Linked DNA regions of Homo sapiens. The protein of the gene in region 2 interacts with the protein of the main gene of each other region in a pairwise test. Each region holds a gene or a part of one and is shown on either strand. Other genes may lie near its edges.

Region 1 (4,124 bases), about 98 Mb from region 2:
AAGTGATAGCTTATTTTAATCTTGGGAATCAAAAGCATGTAGCTAAGAACTTTTCCCAAGGAATATTTTAAAATTTTTATATCAATGTTTATGGAATGACATACTTTTTGATTCAAGGTTCTTAAATGTAGTTTTAGTTTTGATTCAATGTTATAGAACACTGTTTTTTAAACTGTGATCTGAAGCCCACATGTAATGGAATCACCTGGGGTGCTTATATTAAAAAAATGCAGATTCTAGGGCTCACACCAACTAAATCTCCTGGGATTGGAGACCAGGAGGTAGCTCCTATAATCTCCACAGCTGCTTCTCAGGCACACCAAGTTTAAGAACCATTCTTTCATATTTTCAGACTGGGGATTCTTACAAAATGACAAAGAAGGAAAACCTTAATCTTTTAAAGTTAGAGTTCAAGCATTAGACTATATGCTTCTTAAACACAGTTTGTCTTTCCCATTTTCTCTTTCCAGTTCTTTATACTGTCAAGGGATTGGTGCAGAAATGGGAAACAAAGCAGTGAAAGAAAAACTATTTATTTCTTTATACACATTTTGCTTTAACAATCACCAAAAAGACTTTCATTTTCTGTCACCCACCCTGTCCACCAGTTATGTTGGCCTTCAATATATGGCGTTAGCAACATATATAAATCTATATCATATATTTATACACACAAACACATTCTACCAGCACTGTGAAGACACAGACTAGGCTTTACTAGGCTTGGGGCCTCTCCCATGCCACTTAAAAATGAGCACAGGTTTGCTCTATGCAAGAATTTCAACAGAGTTGGTCTGGCCATCAGTCTGCAATTTCCCCGAGATAAGATAGGGTGACAAAATGGGACAGCAACTTTGAAGTGAGGTCAGTCCAATTTGGATATCATAGAAGAAAAGAAATAGGATGTGCTAGGTTAAGCCTGAGATGGTATCTGGGAAGTCACCACATTCATGATGTGAACTCAAAGAACACAGGTGCTACAGTGCAGACCAAGGCCCAGCCTGACTCGACCCAACAGGGTCAGGTGTGGATCTGTGAGTAGTGCTCACTGAGCCCCCGCCAGCAGTGTCCGGCAGGGCACCGCTGCTCAGTAGTGTGCTTTTAGAACCTGCCAGAGGAGCTCCAGCATTGGGACCACGTGCCCCTTTCATCGGAATCAGGGTCCTATATTCACTGAGTTTTCCATCTCAGGACAGCTGATGAGGCAAGAAATGTGCTCTTGCTAGTTCCCAAGCTGCTGGGGCTGTTGAGAGGCAGGATCACAAAACCTTCTGTGCAAACTACGCATCTTTTTCTTAGTGCTGGGCCAAGTGGACCTTGGCTAATCGTATTCCATAGCCGTCAGAAAGGCTTTCTGCCTTTCTCCCAGCTCCACCAGGATACATCTCTGACTCCCTCTTCTGGACCCTCCCGTGGACTTGGAGGAATGAGGCCCAGATGCTCCTCAGCAGATAGGTAGCTGCACAAAAGGGGGACAGGCCCACCTTTCCTGCTGTTTTAAGGACTTCTGGTGGCTGCGCTTCTTGCATGGTTCCTGGAAGGCAAGGGTCACAAGGCTGGAGTACATGGCAGAGCCCTTAGGGATTTCACCTGCAGACAAACATAAAACAAACCAAATCAGTGTATATTGCCAGGCCCTACTGATGGCTACCTGAAGCTGGAGTGAGAGCTACGTGGTGACCAAAGCCAGGAGCACGGTGAGAGCCAGTTAAGAGGATGAGCTAAGAGCATGCGCTGCAGTCTGGAGGAGCAACAGGTGCCCGAGGTTAGGGGGAGCCTCCCCACCTCCCTGTGTGCTGAGATCCCTGCTCCAATTCACTGCACACTGGGTGGCTGGATCCTACCACTCCCCCTTCAGGGGCCAGGTGACTCTCCAAATCACTTTGTCTCAGCAGAAAGAGGCCTTTGCCATGTCCACCCAAGAAAGAAGTGCTTAGCATGAAACATGCACATATAGAAACAGCCTGTTTGTAGGAAGAAGAGGACATTTTGCTGGGAAGCCCTCTGTTAAGTTTATGTCCAGTTGCCATAATGAGGGTGTGGAGGGGCCAAGTCCACAGGGACCTCAGAGCTCAACTAAGTCCAGTTCCATCTTTGACAGATGAGGGTGCAGCAGTCTCACAGAGACTAAGGGACAAGCCAAAGCCACACAGCAGTTAGTGATAAGCCAGGGATTAGAACCGAGGCCTCGGGTCCTTTCCAGTGATCTATGGGAGGTGGAGGGGAAAGCTTCCACACTGGAGAAAGCCAGTGGATACTAGAGATTTTTGGGTTACCTTTTAGTGGATACTAGAGACTTTTTGGATTACCTTTTCTGGGACAGGAATAAGGCTTTACAGAGGCAATCCTGTAAGTGCTGCTCTAAAGAGGCTCAGGAAAGAGAAGAATTATCAGAGAAAAACAAAAGGGAATTAGTGAAAAAATAAAAAAAAGAGCAAGTTAAACTGGCCCAAGTCATTTTCACACTATGGAGATCAACATTCTCTCAGGTTATGGATTAGAAACATTTCTAGGAATATGCTGAATTGCTTATGGCAAAGCTTTGATGTCCATGTTAAAAGGTTTAGTTTCTGATTTTTAACCATTTCATATACCTCAAGTTTTTCTTCAAAGCACTTCCTAGGGAATGATTAACACTTAGTGTTTTAAGTAAATGTAGATAATGTCTGGTACATATATAACATTTTTTCCCTGAAGGTTCAGTTGTTATTTATTAACAAATTCGCTTTTAGACCAATGAGACCCAACAGATCTCTTTTGTCATGTTACTTAAAGATATAGCAAAATCAAATTGCTGTTCTTAACCCGGGAATGTGCAGTGAAATCAGTTTATTAGGTTGCAAATTGCTTTTACTTTTTCATGAAGAGTAGAACACATAACTGGCCTCAAGATCCCTCTACTAGAAGCTCATTCAGAGGCAGACTCCCGAATGTCTAATGACTTCAAGAGTCAGCTGAATTGCATTTCTCCAGTCTCTGAACTTGGCCTCAAAGAAGAAAAATTGGAGTAAAAAGGAGAGATGATGACAATGTGAGAGTGAACCAAGATACAGGGGCAGGAGCTGACGGGGTGGGAGGGTGATGGGGACAGAAACTAGCAGGATGCTCACTGAGGACCTGTGATCTTGCAAGTGGACCCCAAGTCTTCTCCTGGAAGGCCAAAGCAGGCCAAGGGTCACCTACAAGATCTGCTAACGGATGGTGATGGGTGGGGGACAGGCTTGGTGCCTCTGACTGGTGCAGTAGTTTCCTTACCTCTAAGTTAGTCCTTGCCTTCTTTAAAACATCATGTGTTCTGGTTACTGAAACAACAAAAGAGCACCACAGAGTAGAAACCACCAGCAGAAATTAACCCTACTTGCTTAGCATGAGAATTCTAAAGCATTTATTTCTTTCTGGCTATTCAGCTTGGAGTCTCCTTCTATCCACCCCCTGTCCTCCCCTCCCTCTGCAGCCACAATTGCTCCTGGTACAGGAGGTTTGGGGACATCAAATCAGTCTCAACTCCCAACATCCCCAAGCCCCCCTGGTCACTGCTCATCTGCAGCACAAGTGGGGCATCGGGAAGACTGCCTGTTTCTTCCCCCATTCCCTCTCAGGGAACCTACGCTGGCTGACGATGAACTGCTCCATGCTCTCCTTCTGCTGGTTGGCGTTCTTCAGATGCTCAGTTGTGCTCTGAAGGAGTCGCTCCTGTTTGGATACTTTGGTTCTCAGTTCCAGAAGTTCCCTTTCTGTTGATTCTCCCTGGATAAGAGGAACAGACTCTTACTGACCAGGCAGAAGGCCTAAAGCACCCTGTGCTTTGTGGCTCTTTCCAATTCAAAGAAGGATTCTACAGTCTTCTCAACTCTCTTGAACTGGATTTCCTCCTTCACAGCCTCGGATACCTCCAGCTGAGGACAGTTCAGGATGAGGCCATTAGGCAGGAATAATGAGACTCTGGAATTCCCCATGCAGACTAGCACAGGCCTACACACCTGTAGCTTAAGAGAACCTCGCCTCAGGCTGGTATCAAACTCCCAACTCTGAAGAGGACCTTGCTTTAGTCCTGATATCAGTTCTGTCACTCTCCCTTCACAGGTAAGATTGAGAGTTCAGAAGTGTTATGCTGGGGTGAGAGA
Region 2 (7,111 bases):
AAAAATTTTTTTAATTAAAAAACTAAATATATATATAAAGTGGATTTAAAATATCTACATATATTTAAAATATCCACTTCTTTCTTTGCCTCTTTGTAAATATTTTATCTTTAAAGCTCTATTGATGAAATACATTTTATGTTTACCTAAGGCACCAATAAATGAACAAAGCTTTGCAAGAGGACAGCCCAGGGAGGAGCAGCGCTAACTGGAACACAGATATGTTTGACTCACATGTCAAGTAAGACCATCTCTCAAGCAGGAGATTCCCTGGTCCCCGGTCTCCTCATTGGAGAGACCACGTACTCAAGGACCAACCTCCCAGCGCAATGCACTGTGGCCCACTGTGTGCCTAAGGTGCAGTTTGCTTGGCAGGTTTTTGTGTCATCTTCCTGGGAAGAAATTTTCTTGTTCTTTAAGGTTGTTTTTCTCCCTTCACAAGTGTGAAAGAATCCAGAGGGCAGGAATCATTTCTGTCTCTCCCTCAAAATACCAGCATTGGATTGGATGACACCAGTGTCTCTCCCAGTGTCCCCACTGTGTCCTCCCACCCCATCCTGCTCAGGGAAGTACTCAATGCCCACCCTCCCCCAGAAACCTGTGCCGTGTCCCCACTGTGCCCCAAATGCATTTTGCTTTTCAGGTTCCTGCCTCACTGCGGGGCGGGGTTTCCTTGTACTTTGGAATAGCTGTTCTCCCTTCACAAGCATGAGACAATCCAGAGGGCAGAAATTCTTTCTTCCCTCAATACCAGTATCCGACTGCCTGACCAGCATTTTGTCTCTAAGGAGTGATAACGGGGGTAAGAGAAGAAAAAAAAATCTAAGTCCTAGTGGATTAGCTTTTTAGAGGAAGAGTATAGAAGAGTATCCCAGGAGACTCCTCTCGGTCCCAGGGGATTCATGCCATCCAGCTGCTCCTCTGAGAGGCTCCACCCCTAAACCTCACCTTGTCTTCTGGGAGAAGAGGACCCAACAGCTGACATTCACTATTTATGACACTCCAAGAGACAGGGCCAGTGTGGGCACATTAGGTCATCCTCAAACAGTTTTGAACCCAGGACCCAGAAAAGACAGGAGGGTGGCTGAGGACACAACACCACGTGAAGGTTCCAAAGGGAAACCTCCATCCAAAGACGTTTGTGAGTGTGCCTAGGGAAGACAAAAGGAGGAGAGGTACAAAGAATTTTTTATAGTGGACTAGATCAGGTGATTATTCTCTGTTTTCACAAGGAATGTTCAGAAACAGCTCCTCACTGCTCAGTGAAAACATGATAAACAATTACATTACTGCATCTGGTTCAAATGCACAATAAAGAACAAATAATTAATAATGTTGTAAATTGGAGAGGTGAAGTTGGAGTTTGAGAGTATGAGGAAGAAACTGGAAATTTAGAATTTTACTGCAAGTTCTAGAAGTTAGGCTGGGGAATACGGTCATGGATTTGAGACCCTGCTTGCCTTACATTTGGGAAATGCAGGGGAAACCAGTACCCTTGTGGAAATAATTAAATAGGAAGAAATTAGACTGAAGTTGTAGCAGGGCAAGCTGCAGACAAAACCCCTCAGACACCGAGTTAAAGAAGGAAGGGCTTCATTCTGCCGGAAGCTTTGGCAAGACTCACGTCTCCAAAAACCCAGCTCCCCAAGTGAGCAATTCCTGTCCCTTTTAAGGGCTTACAACTCTAAGGGGGTCCACGTGAGAGGGTCGTGATCGATTGACCAAGCAGGGGGTACATAACTGGGGGCTGCATGCACCGGCAATCAGAACGGAACAGAACAGGACAGGGATTTTCACAGTGCTTTTCCATACAATGTCTGGAATCTATAGATAACACAACCGGTCAGGTCAAGGGTCAATCTGTAACCAGGCCCAGGACGCGGCGCCGGGCTGTCTGCCTGTGGATTTCATTTCTGCCTTTTAGTTTTTACTTCTTCTTTCTTTGGAGGCAGAAATTGGGCATAAGACAATATGAGGGGTGGTCTCCTCCCTTAAGTGATGATGGTGCCCTGAGTTCCTCACCAAGAAAACCTAAAGGTACTTCATGCCTTTCTTGTAATTAACTTGAAGGGAAAGAAAACTTAACCCCAAATCAGCAATTTACCTCTGATTACATAACCAGGAACCATCCACCTAAATAATCCGAATAACAGAACTACATAATTATAACCAATCAGTTATTAAATTGGGGTTGCTTTGGGCTGGGCGGGGTAATCCCAGCACTTCGGGAGGTTGAGACCAGAAGTTCAAGACCAGCCTGGGCAACACAGGGAGACCCCCCCCCCGCCCCACCCGATCATTAAAATAAAAAATAAATAAATTTGGTTTGTTTCCTTACACACTTTACAGAAGCCTTTCCATCAAGACCGTCCGGTGGCCCACAAACCAAAAACCGTGGCTGGGTGCTCCCCTACTCATGAATCGCTGTTTGCTCAAACTCTGTAACGCTTTAATTAAACCTCAGTTTAATTTTTAACAGGATTAAGGAGGGACTGGAAACGCCAGTGGCCACAGCTCCTCGCAGGCGCGAGCCCGCACACCGCGCTGGGCCTCTCCCCTGAGGCGCCTCGGGTCTCACTGCAGGATCCCGAGGAGCCGCGGGGCTGCGGGCGCGGGCCGGGGAGGGAAGCTGCTTCGGGCAGGACGGAAGTCGCGGTGCAGAGACGGGACCGGAGCCCGGGGTGCCGCTGCCCGCCCAGCTCTGCCGGGCGCCAGAAAGGACCGAGGGCCGCGCCGCGCCGCGCCAGCAGGGACCCGGGTCCGCCCTCGGGAGCCGACCGCTGGGAGCCCGGGGCCCGGGGCCGCCACAGCCCCTTCCCTTCTCCAGACCCCCGGCGGCGCAACTCACCATTTCCCAGCTTCCGGGGTGTCCCGACATCCTCCCTGCGAATCCCCCAGTACATGCAGGTCACAGGAGGGCCCCGGCTGCGGCAGAGCCTCCTGAACCGCCGAGAGTGAAGGAGAAGCGCAGGGCTACTGACCGAGACACGCACGTGCGGGCACGAGAGACAAAGGCCGGGCACACCCGGAAGCCGCCTCGGGTTTTCTAGCGGAGCGCCGGATTAGGCAGTCCCCGCCCCGGTGCCCCTGATTGGGTAGGGCCTCAGGCCCCGCCCCCTCAGACTCTTAGTGACAGGTGACAGCTCCCGCGCGTGTCTGAATGAGGCAGCGTTCTGGCTACAGCTCTTCTCCAAGAGGGTTTCCTCTCTGGGTTGGGACCCAGCCTTGCCTAGGGGACATTCATTTATATACACTTAACCTTGTATACAATGTTACATTCATTTGTGAATAATATATATGATATTTAAAATAGGAAACAATATAATAATAATTCTTTTAAAATTTCAGACTTATTAACCTTCATGGCCTCTGGTCTTCTGAGGAAGCAGTCTGAGGAGCCCGAGTTTTGAAAAGGGAAGCAATCCTCCAAGGCTGCGATTTCCACAGAAATCACATGTGAGCCACAGGTGTCATTTTAAAATTTCTAGTAGCAACAGAAACGAGGAATAAACAGGTAAAATTGATTGCAATACTTTATTTAACTCAATATATACAAAATATTATAATTTAAATATATGATAAATATAATATTAATGAAGTATTTTTTGTTGTTCTGTTTTTTGGTACTAAATCTTTCAAAGTCACTCTGCGTTTTAAACTTCCAGCATGTACCGATTCAGACCAGCCACATTCTAGGTGCTAAGTAGACCCCTGTGGGCAATGACTGTCACACTGAAGTGCAGTTTTGAGGGCTCTGGTTCCCCTGACCTCAGGGAGTGAAGGGCCCGAACCCCTCTTTTCTGCTAGAGGTGAGGGAATGCCCTCCTTCTGCTAACATCTCTCCTCAGGCCCAAGGGTGGCAGAGACAGTGCCCAGAGAGAGAAGTGGGCTGCAATAAAGAAGTATCTAGAGGGAGTCTACTATTTCCCACCTGCTCTTGCCAGGGGCCCAGCCTCTTCTATAGATAAGACAGTGAAAAAAAGATGAGGGGCCCCAGGAGAAGAAAACCCATGTCTTCAGATTTGTCCACAGCCTTAACCTCAGGACTTTAGATGTAGAGGGAATACATTAAAGACAAACTTCTCATTTTGCAATTTGGCTTTGGCCCTAATGGTCAGGCTGTGGTTTTCTGTTTCCTCCTGTGGTGTGGAATTTAAGTGTGTGAGTTTAAGCACAAATCACATGCATGTCTACGTGCACTTCTGTATGGCTCAACACCGTCTAACCAGAAATCCAACTTTACATAAAGGGAAAAGGAAATCAGTACATACAGGGTGCCTTGTGTTTGCCTGGTAAATTGCAATCAACATGTCATTGAATCCTGGCATCCTGTCTGCACTAGGTGTACGTATTACCTATTGCTTCACAGTAAAATTCCCCAAAACGTATTAGATTGAGCTGGTCCACCTTCTAGGCTGGGCTCAAGTGAGCCATTCTTCTGGTCTCTGCTGGGCCCTTTCAGGCACGTGTGGTCAGCTGCTGGTTGACTAGGCAATGCTGCTTCTGAGGGTGAGCTGCCTGTCAACTGTGGCACTTTGGTTTTCCTCCCTATAGTATCTCATCCTCTAGCAGGCTAACATGGACTTGTTATTATGGAGATGACAGGGTTGTGAAATAAAAAGCAGAAGCATTCAAGAGCTTTTGTGCCTCGGCCCCAAACTGGCACATGGTCATATTCACAGCTTTCTACTGCCAGAGCAAATAAGGCCAGTGAGATTCAAGGTTTGGGAAACAGATTCTGCCTCTCAATGAAAGCAGCTATAAAAGCACATCACAAAGGGCATAAATACAGGAAGGGATGAAGAGTTGCTGCCATTTTTGCAATCAGTATCATGCCTTTTCTTGCAGATGAGGTTTATATAACTTTCCAAGACAAGGAAGTTGTGCAAAGCCTCACAGCTACTAAGAGGCTGGGCTGGGACCAGGATTAACTTTTCGTGACTCCAAAGCCCATGCACCTCTGCAAGCCACACGAATCAAGCAGCTTCTCTAAACCTTTGAAGTCCTGGAAAGTAACTCTTCTGCAATAGAAGCAAGAATCCTGTGAGATTGGGATCCATCTAGTACTCTTCACCATTTGGAACAACTGCCTCCAGAGAATGCTTCTGACACATCTTGGAAGAACGTGGAATAACTTGAGGAAATGGTCGATTTGCTAATTTAGGAAACCAATGTTCGATATTACATATTTTTTATTTCTTTTCATAGGATAAATTTAAAAGCACAGATGACGCACTCCACATGAACGCAAATCCTATTCATCCCTTTTTGTTGTTTGTAGGCTATTTATGATTTTCAACAAAGACTAAATCAAACCACTGTGTCTGAAATAACCTCTTACTCTGAAAGCAAGTGACATGAAAATAGACCTGCTGAGAAAAATTTCTTCCTGCTGCAATTTAACGAAACAGCTGACTACAATTTGAAGCCATTCTTTGATTTTTTTTTTTTTTTTTTTTTTTAAGATGGAGTCTCGCTGTGTCATCCAGGCTGGAGTGCAGTGGTGTGATCTCGGCTCACTGCAAGCTCCGCCTCCCGGGTTCACGCCATTCTCCTGCCTCAGCCTCCCGAGTAGCTGGGACTACAGGCGCCGGCCACCATGCCCGGCTAATTTTTTTGTATTTTTAGTAGAGATGGGGTTTCATCGTGTTAGTCAGGATGGTCTCCATCTCCTGACCTCGTGATCAGCCCGCCTCGGCCTCCCAAAGTGCTGGGATTACAGGCGTGAGCCACCGTGCCCGGCCCATCCTTTGATTTTTAACAAGGCAAGCTTGTTTTCCAAGACCTCAAATAGATCATGTGAGTGTCAGGGCTACTATATTGACTCAGAAGGTGGACCATATCCTCTGTTTGGAGATGGAGTGGTGAGAGGGCCTGCACCAGCATGTGAAGACCTTAGGTCCATAGGTGAGATTCAATCATCAGGTGTGGTGTTTTAGGGTCCTGATGTTTATGCAAAAGTTATGTGTATATTACTAAAGGTAAATTGTAGAACATTACAAATAATCATATATAAACCAAAAATGTCAACTACAATTGTCATTATGCATTATTATTCTAAGTATTTTTACCACAATTAGAAGTAGTAGCAGTTGTTGCTGCTGCCGCTGCTGTTGTAGGAATGGAGATGAAAACATGGAATAAAGCTCTGCTGCCTGGTCATTCTGCTGCTCCTACGGCTGCAGATGTGCTAGTTCTGCGCAGACTTTAGACTTCTGTTGTGAAGCTGTAACTTAAGAGACTTTCAGTGCTCTGCTGTGGCAGGAAAAAAGTTTGAGTCAAGACAGAACAACAATTCTGTGAATTTGAAGGTGGAGGGTAGGATGGTTCTGGGGCGCAGTTGAAGGGGAAGAAGTACACATCACTGAATGAAGGAGTGGAAGCCTATGGTGAATGGCAGGGTTTGGCCATGAAGCAAATCAGATTTGGATTTTACGGACGGTCACTCAGTGAAACTGACACACCTGCAAAGCGGGAAATGGAGGACGAATAAACAGGTGATGTGTTCCAGCAGCAGACAGGAGGGCCTTCTAAGAACACACCTGCTCCTTTACCCAGGACCTCTTCCTACAACTCCAGCAGACATTCTCATGTAGAAACCCACAATGTGATTTCATCACATTCTGACTCCACATTCTGACACCACATTCTGACTCCACATTCTGGCTGGTACAGTATCCTTTTCTCCATTCTCTTATCTTCCCCTTCCTCATTTCATTATTGCACATAAAGCATCTGGGGTAGGCACACAAGCATATTGCTATTTTTGTTTGCTTGTTTGTACTAAATGACATGTGTTGATCCGCAGCCAAATGAGACGGGGCAGAAAAATACTGGCCCCGTGAAGACTGTTTCTCCACCAGTGGCTGCTCACTCAGCTCTTATCTCTGTATTTCAGGACTTAAACAACAATAACAAAAAACCATAATACCCTTGCATAGATTGTTCAATTGGTGAATTTCAATGTTTTTAATATAGCATTGTAAAACCAAAAACAATTTCATAACTTTTTTATCTACGTAGTTGTTACACATAGGGCAAATCTGTATATAGGACTATGTATATAGGACTATATATATACGCGTGTGTGTATGTGTATATATATATAGTC
Region 3 (7,035 bases), on a different chromosome or scaffold from region 2:
GAGCACCTTGTCAACCCCAAGTGCAATTCCAGTACTAAACCAGACATCATTTTCATCCACCATGGCCCTCAAAATACAAGGCAACTACTTCAGCAAGTACTCAACTGAAGCCTCATCACTCTGTTAGGAGATAGCACATCTGTCTCCAATCTGGTGCCTCCCTAAGGGACATTCACAAGGGATTTCGACTTTGTGCAGCCTTGGCCCCATTTGCCAACTTTCGACTCCAACCCCCACCTAAGTTGCAACTCCACTGTGTCAATTCATCACTGTAGCTCATAAGCCTCTGGGCTGTTTACATCTTTTTGATACCCCTGTGAGGTTCCTGGGGGACAGGAGGCTGGGGTACAGGCCTGACCCTCCTGGACGCTGGGTTAAGTGATGAATTTTGGGACTGATGTGCCTCCTTCTGGGCCAACCCCAGGGTGTTCCAGGCTTAGAGCCTTCAGGGAGAAGGCCAATAGCCCACTCACCTTTGGCCTCTCAAATCCCATCCATAAAAAACAGCAGAAAAAAAAAGGAGATGCACAGAAATAATTTAGGAGATCCCCCCAACACACACACACACACACACACACACACACACACACACACACACACACACAAAACCTCTGTATAAATAAATAATTCAATACTGCTAATGGCGAGAAAGAGAGACAGTCATCAAATAAATAAATAGATAAATAAATAAAATAAATAAAAAGGTTTGCTAGGAGCCCCAGGCAAAATGGTCCCCTAGAGTTGTCTTGATGAAGGCAGTCCGAACGTGAGGTTCTGATGCCTCTCACAGCTGTCCTGCTAAGAAGGTTTTTGGTGGCTCTGGGAAGCCTTTGTCTCCATGGAGGGAGACTGAAGTCCAGTCTGGGTTCCTGGGCAGGGACGAGGGTTATTTACAGTGGCTGTACTTGCCCTCCCCGGGGCACCTGCCCCTGTCCCAGGCACCTGCCATCTGGCCTTCTGCAGTGACAGCACTGGCATCCATTAGTCTTTGTGGGCAGGGCTTAGGTCTGGGCCAGAGGCCCGGTATGGGGAGGCTGGGTCGTCCACTGCTGCCCGGGGCCCTCACTCCTGTCTTCTGATGGAGGAAGGGCTGTCGTGGTGGTGGTTGCATGGCAGTCTCTAGCCCCATGGGTTGATAGGATGGGAAAGATTGGGTAGGGAGACGTCACTGCTTCCAAGAAAAAGGACTATTTTCCAAATGTTTTCCCTGGGGTGGGAGGGATAAAGAATGTTTGGCCCTTGCTTCCCCATAACCCAAAATATCCAAAAGCTGGGACCGGTCCTCTCTCCCTCGCTCCCTCCGTGCCCTGTCCTGCTGCTGTTGCCACCACAAACTTGAAACTCACCCACAAGCCTCCGGAAAGCCAGTCAGCTGGTGAGGGGGATGCCCAAGAGTTTATTTTAAGGATCTTATTCCTCACCTCCCCGTTCTTAGCGCCTTCTGTGGATGAAGCAGCTGGTGGTATTTGTGGATCGGAGATCAGCTTACCCTCTCTGCCCAGCCCCAGCCAGGGGGGACTTGGGGTGAGGGCAAAAATAAAGGTGGGTCTTTCCCAAGCTGACAAGAAACCTCAGAAGCCAGCAGGAGCCCAAGACATGGCATATCCAAGCCCCTCTCCCCTGCACTCTGGATTCGGGTCTTTTCCCCCAAACCTGAGCTGCTGTGCCCCATCCTGGCAAAATTCCTGAGAGGCAAGGGGAGTGGCTTAAGCTGAAGGGTGGGTGGGTAGGTGCCAGGCTGCACTGGGTGGCATCCAGGGCGTGGCAGCCTGGGCAGAGGGGAGGGGGCTGGCAGGCGCCAACCGGAGGGTAAGGCCAGACTGGCTGGCGCTGGGGCCTGGCAACTGGCCATGGCACTGGGGAATGTTCAGCAGATGGTCCCGTGGAATTAAGTTGGTGCCAGCTAGTGGGGCTGAGGCATATTTGGGAAGTGGGGCTGGAGACCAACCTGTCCTGACTCTTCCACTATCTCCTTTCTCGTGAGGTTGCAGGGCCCCTGTGAATGGCCAAGAGGTGTTTTGTGTCAGCCATGCAGTGGCCTCTTCACAGCTGGGATCTGCTGGGCTCTGTCCCCTTACCATGCTGAGGTATTGGGAGCAGCAGCTGAACCCTTCCGTTTTTCTATCTATCATCTTAACCAACTCCTATCTCCTGACACCTCCCACCAAGTCAAACGTCCCCATCTGGTATTCAAGGATATCCCTTCTTCTAGGACCCAAATGTCTTCCAGCCTTTGCTTGGGCCTGTTTGAGGAAGTTAAAGGCCTGACCCCGTTATCTTGAACCTGAACTGCCATTGGTCTCCTCTTTCACCCCTCTCAGACATGGGGGTCCATCCACGTGCAGCCATGAAGTTGGACTAGTGGGGCATCCGGGGAGGTGGGGAGAATTACCACGGGCCTCCTGTGAGCAGTGGAGGAGAAGAACTGTCTCCACATTTTCCTGGCCAGGGCTCAATTTTTGAGTCACAGACCCATTGCTTCTCACAAAACCTTGAAGTTTTCTTTTCTTTCTTCTTTTTTTGTGCCACAAGATGATGGTTCTTTCCATATGCCCAGGCCTGAGCTGGGCCCCAGGATGATGCTGGTAGAGGCTCCTAGCAGGCTGATCTAGAGAGTGAAGCCCCCTTACCCTCTTCTCCTCTTCCCCTAGGCAAGCAGGAAGGACAAGGTATAGGAGCCCTCACTATTTGTCACCAAGAAGGCGGGGAGGGCAGGTGGTTGGGGGAGGCTGGCAGCGCGAAGGGGCCCCCACGGGCAGCTGGCTCAGGGGCACTTAGCGCCTCGTGCTGGAGTAGCTGTCTGCTGAGCTGTAGCTCCGGCTCTGGCTCCTGCTCCGGCTCCGGCTCCGGCTCCTGCTCCGGCTCCGGCTGCGGGAGCCCGGACTAGGGCTGCGGGAGCTAGAGCTGCTGCTCGTGCGGGTCCGGCTCCGTCTCCGGCTCCGGCTCCGACTCCGGCTCCGGGAGTAGCTGCGGCTGGCCGAGCGGCTACTGCTGCTGCTGTACCAGGAGGAGGTGCTGCTGAGGCTGCCGGATGAGGAGGGGCTGGGCCGATAGTAGGGGATGGGGCGTTTCCGGGCACTGCAGAGACCAGAGAGAGGAGGGATGAGGGCCGGCCCCTCCGTGCCTCCCCGCAGCGAGCCCCAGTCTTGTCCCAAGGGAAACCAATATCCTCCCTTTCCCCAGTCCCTTAGGAAAAAATACTCCCTTTCCACTTCTCTTGCAGTGCTGAGAACACATCAAAGTAAAAGTCTCAGCTTAGTGCTAGTATGTCTTGAAAAATGATTATCTCACTTTTTTCTTTCCCCCATGAAGCAAGCCTGGAGCTCAGAGCCTTCAGCTTGCAACAGAATCTACATCTAAACTTTAATCATAGTTTTGTTTTCCTATTTTTACTTTTACTAGAACCATCTATTTATGGCAAAAGAGGCTAATTTTCCATTTACTGTACTGTATCGTTTCCTTTAGAAATAAATGTATGAACCTTTGAAAAGAGTCATATCTATTTAAAGAAAATTAAGAATAGTACAGTTGATAAACAGACAAGTCATATGTGGTCAAGATACTGGTGAATGACTAAAGATTGGGAAACACTGAATGGGTTAATCAAGATGAATTATTTGAGATTGACTAAAGAAACTAGACAGCCATTTGGAAATGCCACTCTCTATCTTAGCTTTCCTCTAGGTTGACCCCAAAGATAATAATAATACCAACAACTTCTATTTTGTGCTTATTATCCTGGCCACTTAATAGCTGTGTGACACTGGATCAAGGGAGTGGGTTTAGAAATTATGCTAGGAATTATATTGTATTATATTATATTAATTACATTTTTTCAGACAGGGTCTCGCTCTGTCACCCAGGTTGGAATGCAGTGGTGCGATCTCGGCTCACTGCAACCTCCACCCCACTCCAGGCTCAAATGATCCTCCCACCTCAGCCTCCCAAGTAGATGGGACCACAGGTGCACACCACCATGCCTGGCTAGTGTTTTGTATTTTTGGTAGAGACAGGGTCTTGTCATATTGCCTAGGCAGGTCTCAAACTCCTGAGATCCAGCAATCCGCCTGCCTTGGCCTCCCAAGGGTTTAGGAATTCTTTACAAGCTGAGGCAGGGTGCCCTGTGGGATATTGGAGAAGGGGACCCATCACCCCAGCCTTGCTATCTGGGAAACACATTCTTTTTCCTCCTCCAGGTCATCTCCAGGGAGAATCCCTGATTCCTCAGTCCAGTGTCTGGACTGAGTGGCAGATGCCTGGAAGGCCAGCAGGAAGAGCCCAACCCAATCTTAGGGCAGCATTCAATCATTCTCCCAGCTTTCAAGGCCTGAGAAATTTGCTTGCACTCAGACTTCTCTGCTAGAGCTTTTCTCTTCTGAGGCCTTACCTGTTCCAGGAACGGTATCCACCTATTCTGACCATTCAATCAACAATGGCACATTGTGTACTCTGCATTCAAGTTTACAAAGCACGTTCACATCTTTTTGCCCCTTTTCATTTCATCCTCATGCTTCTGGGAGTTATTTCTTCCAATATCTCATGGGTGAGAAAACTGAGGCTCAGGAAGGTAAGAGCCTTTCCTAGGTCACCTGCAAAGTGGTACATTCAGGATTCCAATCCACATCCAGTGCTCTCCGGCTTATCCACCGTGGCTCCCTCTAGGTCCCTTTGGGAACTAAGCAATCCTGTTTGTCCTTTCCACACTTGGTTCAAGGTATAATTACATATAGGTTTATTTAAGCCTGACAGCTGAGTGTACAGGTCTGAGGGTAGAGGTCTGTCTCCGCTGCTCGGGATCCACCACCAGGCCAAGGTCCTGCTCCATTGCTTTGGCCTCCATTCCCTGGCCTGACGCCACTCTCTCCCCCAGCTCCGCCTCCCCGGCCCCAGCTCCACCTCCCCGGCCCCAGCTCCACCCTCAGGCTTTGGCCACTCCCCCATGCCACACCCGATTCTTCAGGCTGGCCCCGCCCCCTTCTTGCAGGCCCTGCTGGTTGAGCTGGGAGACTCAGTCCCAAGGCTTTGAACAGACACGTAATTTCAATGATGTTGGGGTTGGGGGGACCATAAGCTCGCACAATCCTAAATCCCAGCCCCAAGGAGGCCTAGGGAGAGCCTGAGGCTCGAATGAGTAAGAATGGGAGTGGGAACGAGGATGAAGGTGGGTCCCCCTTGCCCCCTGGCCTCACCTGGTTATCCTCCGGGCCTCCAGGTGGCTCGGGGAGTCTCTCCGGCGCTTTCTCATAGGCGAGTAGGACCGACGTCTCCGACGCGCTCGCTCGCGCTCCCGCTGCTGCGAGTCCTTCTCACTGTATTTGGGATCCCGCTCCCTGAAGGGGCGCGGGGGGTTACTGGGGAGCTGGGGCTGGGCTGGATTTTCTGCGTGAGCGCGTGGGAGAGGGACACTCCCTTTCTTTCCCACCCCACTGGGTCACGGGATGGGGTCTGCACGTTGCCGCAAGGGAGACCGGAGGGAGGATGACGGGGCTGCGGTAAGAGTCTGCGAGGGTTGTTAGTACCGTAGGGGTGGGGGCTGGGCTTGTGCAGGGGTGTCAGCATTTGCAGGTGGGCATCATAGCAGGGCAGGTGCTGCAGGGGTGAGGACGTGAATGTTACGCAGGCCCTGGTGCGTGGGTAAGAACTGGGGGCTCTGAATATGGGGACGGTCTGTAGAGGCTGAGGGCTGGGGATGTGAATTCTGGGGTATGTCTGCGGGACTGTTTGGGCTGGAGACATTAGGAAACAAGGGTATTTGATGCCTCGCTGCCACTCCTGATTGGACAAAGGGAACTGTAAGAATGCTGAGTCAGGGTCAGACCTAAGAGGAAGAAGGCCCGAGAACGGGGAGGCGGGGCCAGAGAGGAGGATCAGAGCAAAGGGGTGGGGCCTAGGACGGGCCTAGTTTGAGGGGCGGGGCCGGTACCTGCTGGGGCTGTAGCGGGAGTAGCTAGGGCTGCGGCGGGACCTAGAGCTTCTGCTGGGCGGGCTCCTCTTGCCAGACTTGGAGGAATAGCTGGGAGAGCGGGAGTAGGACCTGGGGGAGAGGTAACAGCCTCTGAGGAGCCTGCTGAGTGTCCGCCTGGGTTATCCAAGACGGCTTGAGCTTTATTCAGCGGGTCCCTGGGCAGTGACCTTTTTCTTTCTGGAAGCCAGGCAGAGGAACTGGGCCCCGATCAAAGAATGAAAGCCCCTCCCCACCGGTGGTTAATAATAATACCAACAACTTCTATTTTGTGCCTACTATCCTGGCCACTTACTAGCTGTGTGACCTTGGCAGATGATTTCGTTTCCCTGGGCCGTTTTCTTGTCTATAAAATGCAGGTAATAATAGTCCTTACCCTAGACAATTGTAAATTGAATGAGTGAATTCGGGTAAATCACATAGCATATTGGCACCTATGCTAAGTATCAATTAGACAGGACATAGGAAATGTTAGCTATGACTATGACATATTTTATTATGTGCCAGACATTGAACCAGTGCTTTGTGTGTATTATTTAATCCTCAACACATCTTAGGGTTAGGTACTATTATCAATTTCATTTTATAGATGGGGAAACAGAGGCACAGAGAGATGATGCACTTCGCTAAACACAGCTGGTAAGAGATGTGAACCCAGGACTGTTTGCCTCTAAGCCAAATTTAATTCACGTCTGTTTGGTTTCAAAGTGCTCTTGATTTTTGTAGACTATATTGTTGTGCATCTACATGACTAATCCTTATGCTCCTCCTAGTCTTCTTTGCTTTCTGTTAATGCCTCCCACTTTTAGAAAACAGGGGCAGGAATAGCTCTTCCCTTCTCAGTGCCCTCAGCAGTGTCCAGCTATGGTCACTGGAAAAATGTGCTTTTGCCAACTTATGCTTTGGCTATGCATTGAGAGATATAAGAAAGAGTCAAGATGAAACCTGTTTTTGGATACTTTGAAAGGATATTATCAGAATTTCCATTCACTGCACCATATAGAGTCCCTTTTCTGTGGAGCCATCTGAGTCATTTTTCATAGAATTAAAAACCTGAAATAGCTGCTCTTCTG
Region 4 (7,035 bases), on a different chromosome or scaffold from region 2:
TGGGAGTAGGGTCACATTAGCATGATACCCTGAGACACTGATGGTGTGGTCAGCTCTCCGAAGTCTTTAACGCCTGTACTCTGAGGAGACCCTCAGATCCCAGGGAGCTGTCGAGGGAGGAAGCAATATGCCCATTGGAGATGATTCCAGTGCTGCTGGAACCAGGACAGCCAGCTCAGTGCTGGGCAGATGGCAATGACAAAATCTCCCCTCCCAGGTGAAGAAATGTTTCTCGCGCAATTGTCCTTCCACGCCCTCTTCTCATGGTCCAGTTTCTAGCACAAATATGGGACACCTGGGATTCAGTTGTGATACGTCAATTAATTAGTTGTGTGATCTCAGGCAAGTCTTCATTCTGTCTGTCCCAAAGTTCTTGGAGGATCTAGGAGTCACAGGGCGATAACGCCTGCCCTACTTAGCTTACAGGGTTGCTATGAAGAATACAACTGGATGACAGGTGGAGAAAGTGCCTGGGAAAGTTTCAACTGCCTGATAGATACAAGGTATTATTATTTCTGTTTATTAGCCCTATCTATCTCTGTCACATGGTTTCGTCTTACAGACATGTGCTTTGGAATTCCAGACACTTACAATGTTCTAGACAACATAAAAACACTGTTTTAATTAGAAATATGGCTGATTTCTATGCTGCCCAGCAAGGTTTCTTTTTATTAAGCAGACCAATTACAGACACTTCTAAAAACTTGCCTGATTCACCAAACCACAAAAATGATTGTGAAAATTTTACATACAACATGTGTCTCAAAGTCAGCATTGGGGTGGGAAGAGTTAGAGTCAGATGGCTCTTCTATTCTGTACCATTTCCATGTTTTCTCTGGACTTTATCTCTCTCTTCCCTTCTCTCTCTCTCTCTCCCGCCCCCTGCCTGCCCCCAACACACTCTCTTACTCTCATACACTTTTATCTCTCTCAGTGTAAAACATGTTAATAAAGCAAGTCCAAAAATCCATACTTTTGACTGTGCAAAGAAACTCTCTGTGGTGCTTCTTTACTAAAATCTACAATTAAGTAGAAATGGTCCAGTTACAAAGCTGTCTTACTAAGAGGCTTACTACTTTGGAAAATGACTGTAATTTTCTATAATTTCCAACATCTAAAAACAAACCTATAAACCATAATGAGATAAACCATAACTACTCACACCCACTAGAGGGCACTAACAAAAAAGATGGGCAATAACAAGTGTTGGCGAGGATGCAGAGAAACTGGATCCTTGATACACTGCTGGTGGGAATTTGAAATGGTATAGCCACTTTGGAAACAGTCTAGTAGCTCCTCAAAAGGTTAAATACAAAGTTATATGATTTAGCAGTTCCACTCCTAGGAATATTATGGAAATAACTGAAAACATGTCTTAAAAACAACTTGTACTCAAATGCTCACAGCAGCATTATTTATAATAGCCCCAAAGTGGAAACAACCCACATGGCCCTCAACCAATGAACAACAAAATGTGGTATTAGTCAACAAAATGGATCAACATTATGGAATATTACTCAGGAATTAAAAGCAACAAAGTACTAATACATGACAATATACCTGGTGAGTACATCAATGGCAAGGGTAAACCTTCAAAGCATTATGCTAAAGTGAAAGGAGCTAGACACAGAAGGCCACATCTTGCAAGATTCTATTTATACAAATGCCCCAAACAAGTACATCTACAGAGATAGAAGGTAGATTACTGGTTGCCTGGGGCTGAGGGGAGTGGGCAATGAGGAGTAACTGCTAATAGGTACAGCATTTCCTTTTAGGGTGGTGAAAATGTTTTAGAATTACATAGTGGTGATGGTTGTACAACATTGTGGATATATCAACAACCACTGAATTGTTCATCTTAGTAGGGTGGATTTTATGATATGGGAATTATGTCTTAATTTAAAAAATAAACCTGTGCAAGATAGACATACATAAAATTCAAACATTACAGACATACATAGAAATGAAACTTTCCCTACACTCCTCTCCAACGGTGCTCCCAGTTTTTTCTTATTCTCTATGCTGATTTTATTTATATGGTGTGTATATTTAGGAAACAAACTAGGACCTTGTGCATACTGCTTTGTGATTTTCACTTATGTGACTTGTTCATTTTTTTTTACTGGAAGAGAAAAATTCCCAACCTGACTTCTTAAGGAATATAGCAAATCCAGAAGTCATAAAGAAAAAGACTTATACCTTGACTACATAAAACTAATATTTTTTTATATGGGAAAAGGTACAATAAATAAAGAAGCAGACTAAGGGAATATCTAAGCAACATTTATGAGAAAGGGTTAATATTCCTAATATTAGGGATTAAGATTCCTACATGTTGATTTAAAGTTAAACAATACAAAAGAAAAATAGGCAAAGAGGTAAACCAGCAATTCACAGGAAAGGAAATATAAATGTTCAATACACATAAAACAAGATGTCAGCCTCATTAGTAGTCACCATTTTTTTGCCCATCAAATTGGCAAAAATTAAAAAGACTGGTGACAACTAGTATGGGCAAGAATAGGGGAAATTGGACACTCTAAGTTGCTGATGAATATGTGAATTGCTACAACATTTTGGGTAGGTCATTAGGTAGTATTTAATAAATGGGCACAACCTTTAGCCCATCTTTGAAACTAACCCACAAAAATAAATGCACCACTACTAACAGTAGGGTCACAAAATGTTTATTGCAGCAATGTTTATCAGAGGGAAAAACTGAAAACAACTGAAATGTCTGGTGATAAGTGACAGCTGAATGAACTACGATTTACGAGAACGAGAGATATTGGAGAAACATGTCTTGGCCCTGTGTGATCGACCTACAGCCACGTGCATGGTAGACAGCTACGTGAAAAAAGGAAGCTGCTAACTCTACAACATAATGCCATTAAAATAAAACCCAAACCCATAGAGAGGTGAATATATATTTGTATATTGTTGTAGGCAAAGAGAAAGCCTGTTAAATTTGGTATGTTTGGGGCTGGGTATGCTGTGTTCTAGAATTTAAAAAAGAATGTCATTTTAAAAAGCTGATTATTGATAAAGGATAATACTGCGCTAATTTGATCTTTCTCGAAGCCAGGGAACAGTTAAAAAGGATGGGAGAAGCCAACGACTGTGAGATGGAAGGGCTGCTTAACACGGTATAACTACAACATCTTACAGAATACAAGGTATGTTAACACTTCACTTTTGGTCTAACGTTTTGGCTCCCTACGGGGTGGAGGAAGACAGATTGGGAAAACACACGCGAAGTATTACACTGGCGTCTGGCAAGGGGTGGAAACTCCTGTCTTGATTTCTGACTCTGGTGTCTCCGTGGGGTTCACTTGAAAGAGAAGGCACCTGGATCCCATATGAAAGCAGGGCAGGGCAGAATTAGCCCAATAGATGCTGGCTTCTTCTGGATCAGTTCAGGAAAACAAGTTTTGACTTGTGGAGAAGGATCTGCCTTGAGCACTATTACTGGGGATAATACTTCAACCAGGGTCAAAGTAACTCCCTAAAGCAGGTTATCAACTCCTCGAGCAGCAGTCATGGCAAGTCCCTGAGACAGTTCTTGGAAACCTAACCTCCTCTACTCTAGGAAAACTAAGATGTCAAATTGGGAAAAACCTTAACTTTACTGTAACTGTCCTGTCCAAACTGTACCACTGAGAGGGGCTATGTTTTCCAAAATGGCATAGAGCTTTGGTAAATGTCTCTTCTTTCACTGTTCAGGAATGCAGAAGATGGATTTTTCTTTCTTTTTTTTTTTTTGAGACAGAGTCTCGCTCTGTCACCCAGGCAGGAGTGCAGCGGCGCGATCTCGGCTCACTGCAAGCTCCGCCTCCCGGGCTCACGCCATTCTCCTGCCTCAGCCTCCTGAGTAGCTGGGACTACAGGCGCCCACCACGACGCCCAGCTAATTTTTTTTTTTGTATTTTTTAGTAGAGACGGGGTTTCACCGTGTTAGCCAGGATGGTCTCGATCTCCCGACCTTGTGATTCGCCCGCCTCGGCCTCCCAAAGTGCTGGCATTACAGGTGTGAGCCACCGCGCCCAGCCATGGATTCCTTTTTTAAAGGTAAAAATAAGAGTATTTTTAAAAGTAGCGGTATTTCTCAAGGGGGGAAGGCTAGTCCTGTTCATGACTATTTTACAGGTTGAATGAGTCCTCCTTTTAATTGAGTTAATATTTTTAGTTCTAAAGTAAACAACTGACATGGTCCCAACATACACACAAAAAATGTGTTCTTGCTGTGGCCCCAAGACTTTAAGCTCTCTTTTGGGATATTGGCGGCGAGGGTGGGGGGACACAAAAGAAGATGTATCTGAAACTGACAGTTCTTTGAACATATGCAAATGTCATAAAAACACCACCCTCCCTTGAGCTTAATGGCCAGCCTTTTATTTTTTTTTGAGACAGGGTCTCACTTTGTCACCGAGGCTGGAGTGCAGTGCCACCATCTCAGCTCACTGCAACCTCCTTCTCCTGGGCTCAAGTGATCCTCCCACCTCAGTCCCACAGGTAGCTGGGACTACTGGCACGAGCCACCACGCCTGGCTATTTTTTTATATTTTTGGTAGAGATGGGGTTTCACCATGTTGCCCAGGCTGGTCTTGAAATCCTGAGCTCAAGTGATCCACCCACCTCGGCCTCCCAAAATGCTAGGATTACAGGCCTGAGCCACCATGCCCGGCCCCAGGCTCCTCTTAAAGGAGAGACAAAAAACAAAGACTGCAGGCCTTTGTGCTCTTCTCCCTCCACCAGTCCTTGGTAGGAAGCCATGATGCGGATGAGGTGGACGCAGTGACTTGCCTTCCACATCAGGCACGCTCATTCACGGTTTCAGAACAAAAGGAAAACCTCACAAAAGAGGTCAGAGGGAAAGAATGAGTGAGGAGAGAGAAAACACAGCCTTTCACTATTTTCGGGAAAGCTCAATCTTCCCAATGTCAGGGACACAGATGTGAGCCTGGCTTGGGGCACTGGGCACAACCCACCACCCCAAACCTAAGGGGAGGTGGTATATTCGCATGGGAATAGCTCCCATTCATATTTCCTTTCTAATTTATTTTAAATTAAATCCTTGCAGTGTTTCTCTTTCTCCATGTCTGCTAGGCAGTTAAGAGAGGGGCAGAAACCAGGCTAGCAAGCAAAGAAAGTGACCACAGGGCATTTTTGCAGTTGGCACAGGGGCCTTTGGCATCTATTTTCAAAACACGCCCAAACTAAAACCTCATGTGCTTCTCGCCAATCTTGCAGAGGCTGAATAAACTGCACGTGGCTCTGTGAAAAGCCACCTCATCCCGTATGGCATTTCTGCTTTCTGGCTGGGTTAACATCTCTGCCTTACAGAGGCTGGTAACATCCAGAGAGCACAGATGGGTACCAAGGTTGCCGGCCTCAGGAGGACCATGTTTCATTTCTTCCTGTGTTTTTGGGATACACAGCTCTGAGAAGGGACTTGTCACTGGGTTTGTTCAATCCCGCTCCTGAGGGGGGTCTGAGACACAGGTAGCAGTCTCAAGCTGGTACCTTGTCAATCAGCAAGACAGTGCAGTGAACGCCAGGTCACGACACAGACTCTCTCAGGTCTTTCTAGGGAATGTTCATGTTATTGGGGAGGTGGGTCCTCTGCAGGGGCCTCTTCTTTCCTCTCCTTAGTCTTGTGAGTCTTGCTCACGATGTGGCTGCTGTTGCCCCTGTTCCCCTCTTCCAGCAATGGTAAGACACACATGGAGCCTCTGGACATTTTTCCTAGCAAGTACATTGCTTTCAGGGTGGATGAAACTGCTACTCTACCCCACTACTTCTCAAAATGTCTTCCTAGCATTTGAGGGAGCTTGGGAAATGATCCATTATACATTATGTGTGGCTGACTAGGGTGCTTCTGTGATGACCCCAGGACCGGGATAAACGGTGAGGCTTCCATCACCTTCACTGTGATGGACATGGGATGGCCCTGGGGTCTTCTGTTGACAAGGAAAATCTAAAAGGTGCTGGGAGAGTGTTGATCTATTTGGTTTCAATCAATCAATCTGGAAAGAGATTCTATATCTTCCTTTACGCTGAACGGGTGAAGGGCAAGGATGAGGGTGATGAACATGGCATCCTTTCAAAGCAGGTGTAGGAGGGGGAGAGAGGGAGGAGAAAGAGGGGGGTCTGGAGTGCCTCAGTGTACTTCATGCATTAGACTTCAGTATATTTTTACTCAGCAGCTTGCCTCTGCTTGTCGAGTATTGAGATCCAGATCAAATATCAAGTGCTTTTCTAGGACAGAAGTGGTTAATGTGGAATCACCTTCAGCATCCTGCCTCTGTGGATGGGGAAGGCAGTCTCTCTACTGTCATCTTTAATCTTAGCACGTAAGAACAATGTGGGAGTGGTGGGGGGCAGGGAGTAGTCCAGATAAAGGGCCTAGAGAGTGGGTCACATGCTTGAATTTATGTGGGTTCCCTACCTCCTGGCCCCTGTCCTGCACAGGACACGACTCACTGTCTGCTTCCGAGAACGATCCGGATTCGTCACTGGAGTTGGTTCCATAAGACTGCTCACATTTAATTTGGGGCCGCACTTGGTTGTACATTCCATCTCCCATCAGGCCTGGTTCCTGATGTTCTGTGGCAAGGAATCTGGCTCCCTGGGAACAGGGCGAGGAGGAGAACTCACAGAGAGGGAGGCTGCAGGGTGAGCCCCCGCTCCCGTCCTCCGCGTAGGAATAGGAAGAGCAGGAGCTGGAAGTCCTGGTCCTGGTCTCCAAGGGGGGTGAGCGAGGGCAGACTTTGATTGGTACCGGGCAGCTGGTGTTGGGCCGCATCCTTCCTGGCAAGTGGTCGGCCATCAGCCCACCGTGGGAGTAGGCCTGCGAGCTGGGGAGGGACTGGCCGGCTCCCACCCACAGACCCTTTGGCACCGGCTCAGAGAGGTCTTTGTCCAAACTGCTCACCCCAGAATAAGAATGCACCGAGGTGCTCACTTGGTCACAAGCGCTGGAGGAGAAGATCACGCTCCTCCGGTCCAGCTCTCCCTCCTGTTTACAGAGAGCCT

Evidence for each region.
Region 1: the proteins of ZNF124 (region 2) and PDE4DIP interact in binary tests that used the Homo sapiens proteins (3 or more experiments, as listed by UniProt).
Region 3: the proteins of ZNF124 (region 2) and SRRM4 interact in binary tests that used the Homo sapiens proteins (3 or more experiments, as listed by UniProt).
Region 4: the proteins of ZNF124 (region 2) and BACH2 interact in binary tests that used the Homo sapiens proteins (3 or more experiments, as listed by UniProt).

Annotation. Positions count from the first base shown.
Region 1 is NC_000001.11:149,029,410-149,033,533, reverse strand, and holds the end of PDE4DIP (myomegalin), read right to left. Parts: intron 3,748-4,124; coding exon 3,609-3,747; intron 3,303-3,608; coding exon 3,256-3,302; intron 2,362-3,255; coding exon of another isoform or gene 2,310-2,361; intron 1,591-2,309; coding exon 1,549-1,590; coding exon of another isoform or gene 1,445-1,548; 3' UTR 518-1,444; downstream 1-517. UniProt on the Homo sapiens protein: Functions as an anchor sequestering components of the cAMP-dependent pathway to Golgi and/or centrosomes.
Region 2 is NC_000001.11:247,169,000-247,176,110, forward strand, and holds the start of ZNF124 (zinc finger protein 124), read right to left. Parts: upstream 3,022-7,111; 5' UTR 2,879-3,021; coding exon 2,849-2,878; intron 1-2,848. UniProt on the Homo sapiens protein: May be involved in transcriptional regulation.
Region 3 is NC_000012.12:119,152,538-119,159,572, reverse strand, and holds part of SRRM4 (serine/arginine repetitive matrix protein 4), read right to left. Parts: intron 6,035-7,035; coding exon 5,924-6,034; intron 5,331-5,923; coding exon 5,190-5,330; intron 3,079-5,189; coding exon 2,775-3,078; 3' UTR 1-2,774. UniProt on the Homo sapiens protein: Splicing factor specifically required for neural cell differentiation.
Region 4 is NC_000006.12:89,943,822-89,950,856, forward strand, and holds part of BACH2 (transcription regulator protein BACH2), read right to left. Parts: coding exon 6,449-7,035; intron 1-6,448. UniProt on the Homo sapiens protein: Transcriptional regulator that acts as a repressor or activator. Binds to Maf recognition elements (MARE). Plays an important role in coordinating transcription activation and repression by MAFK.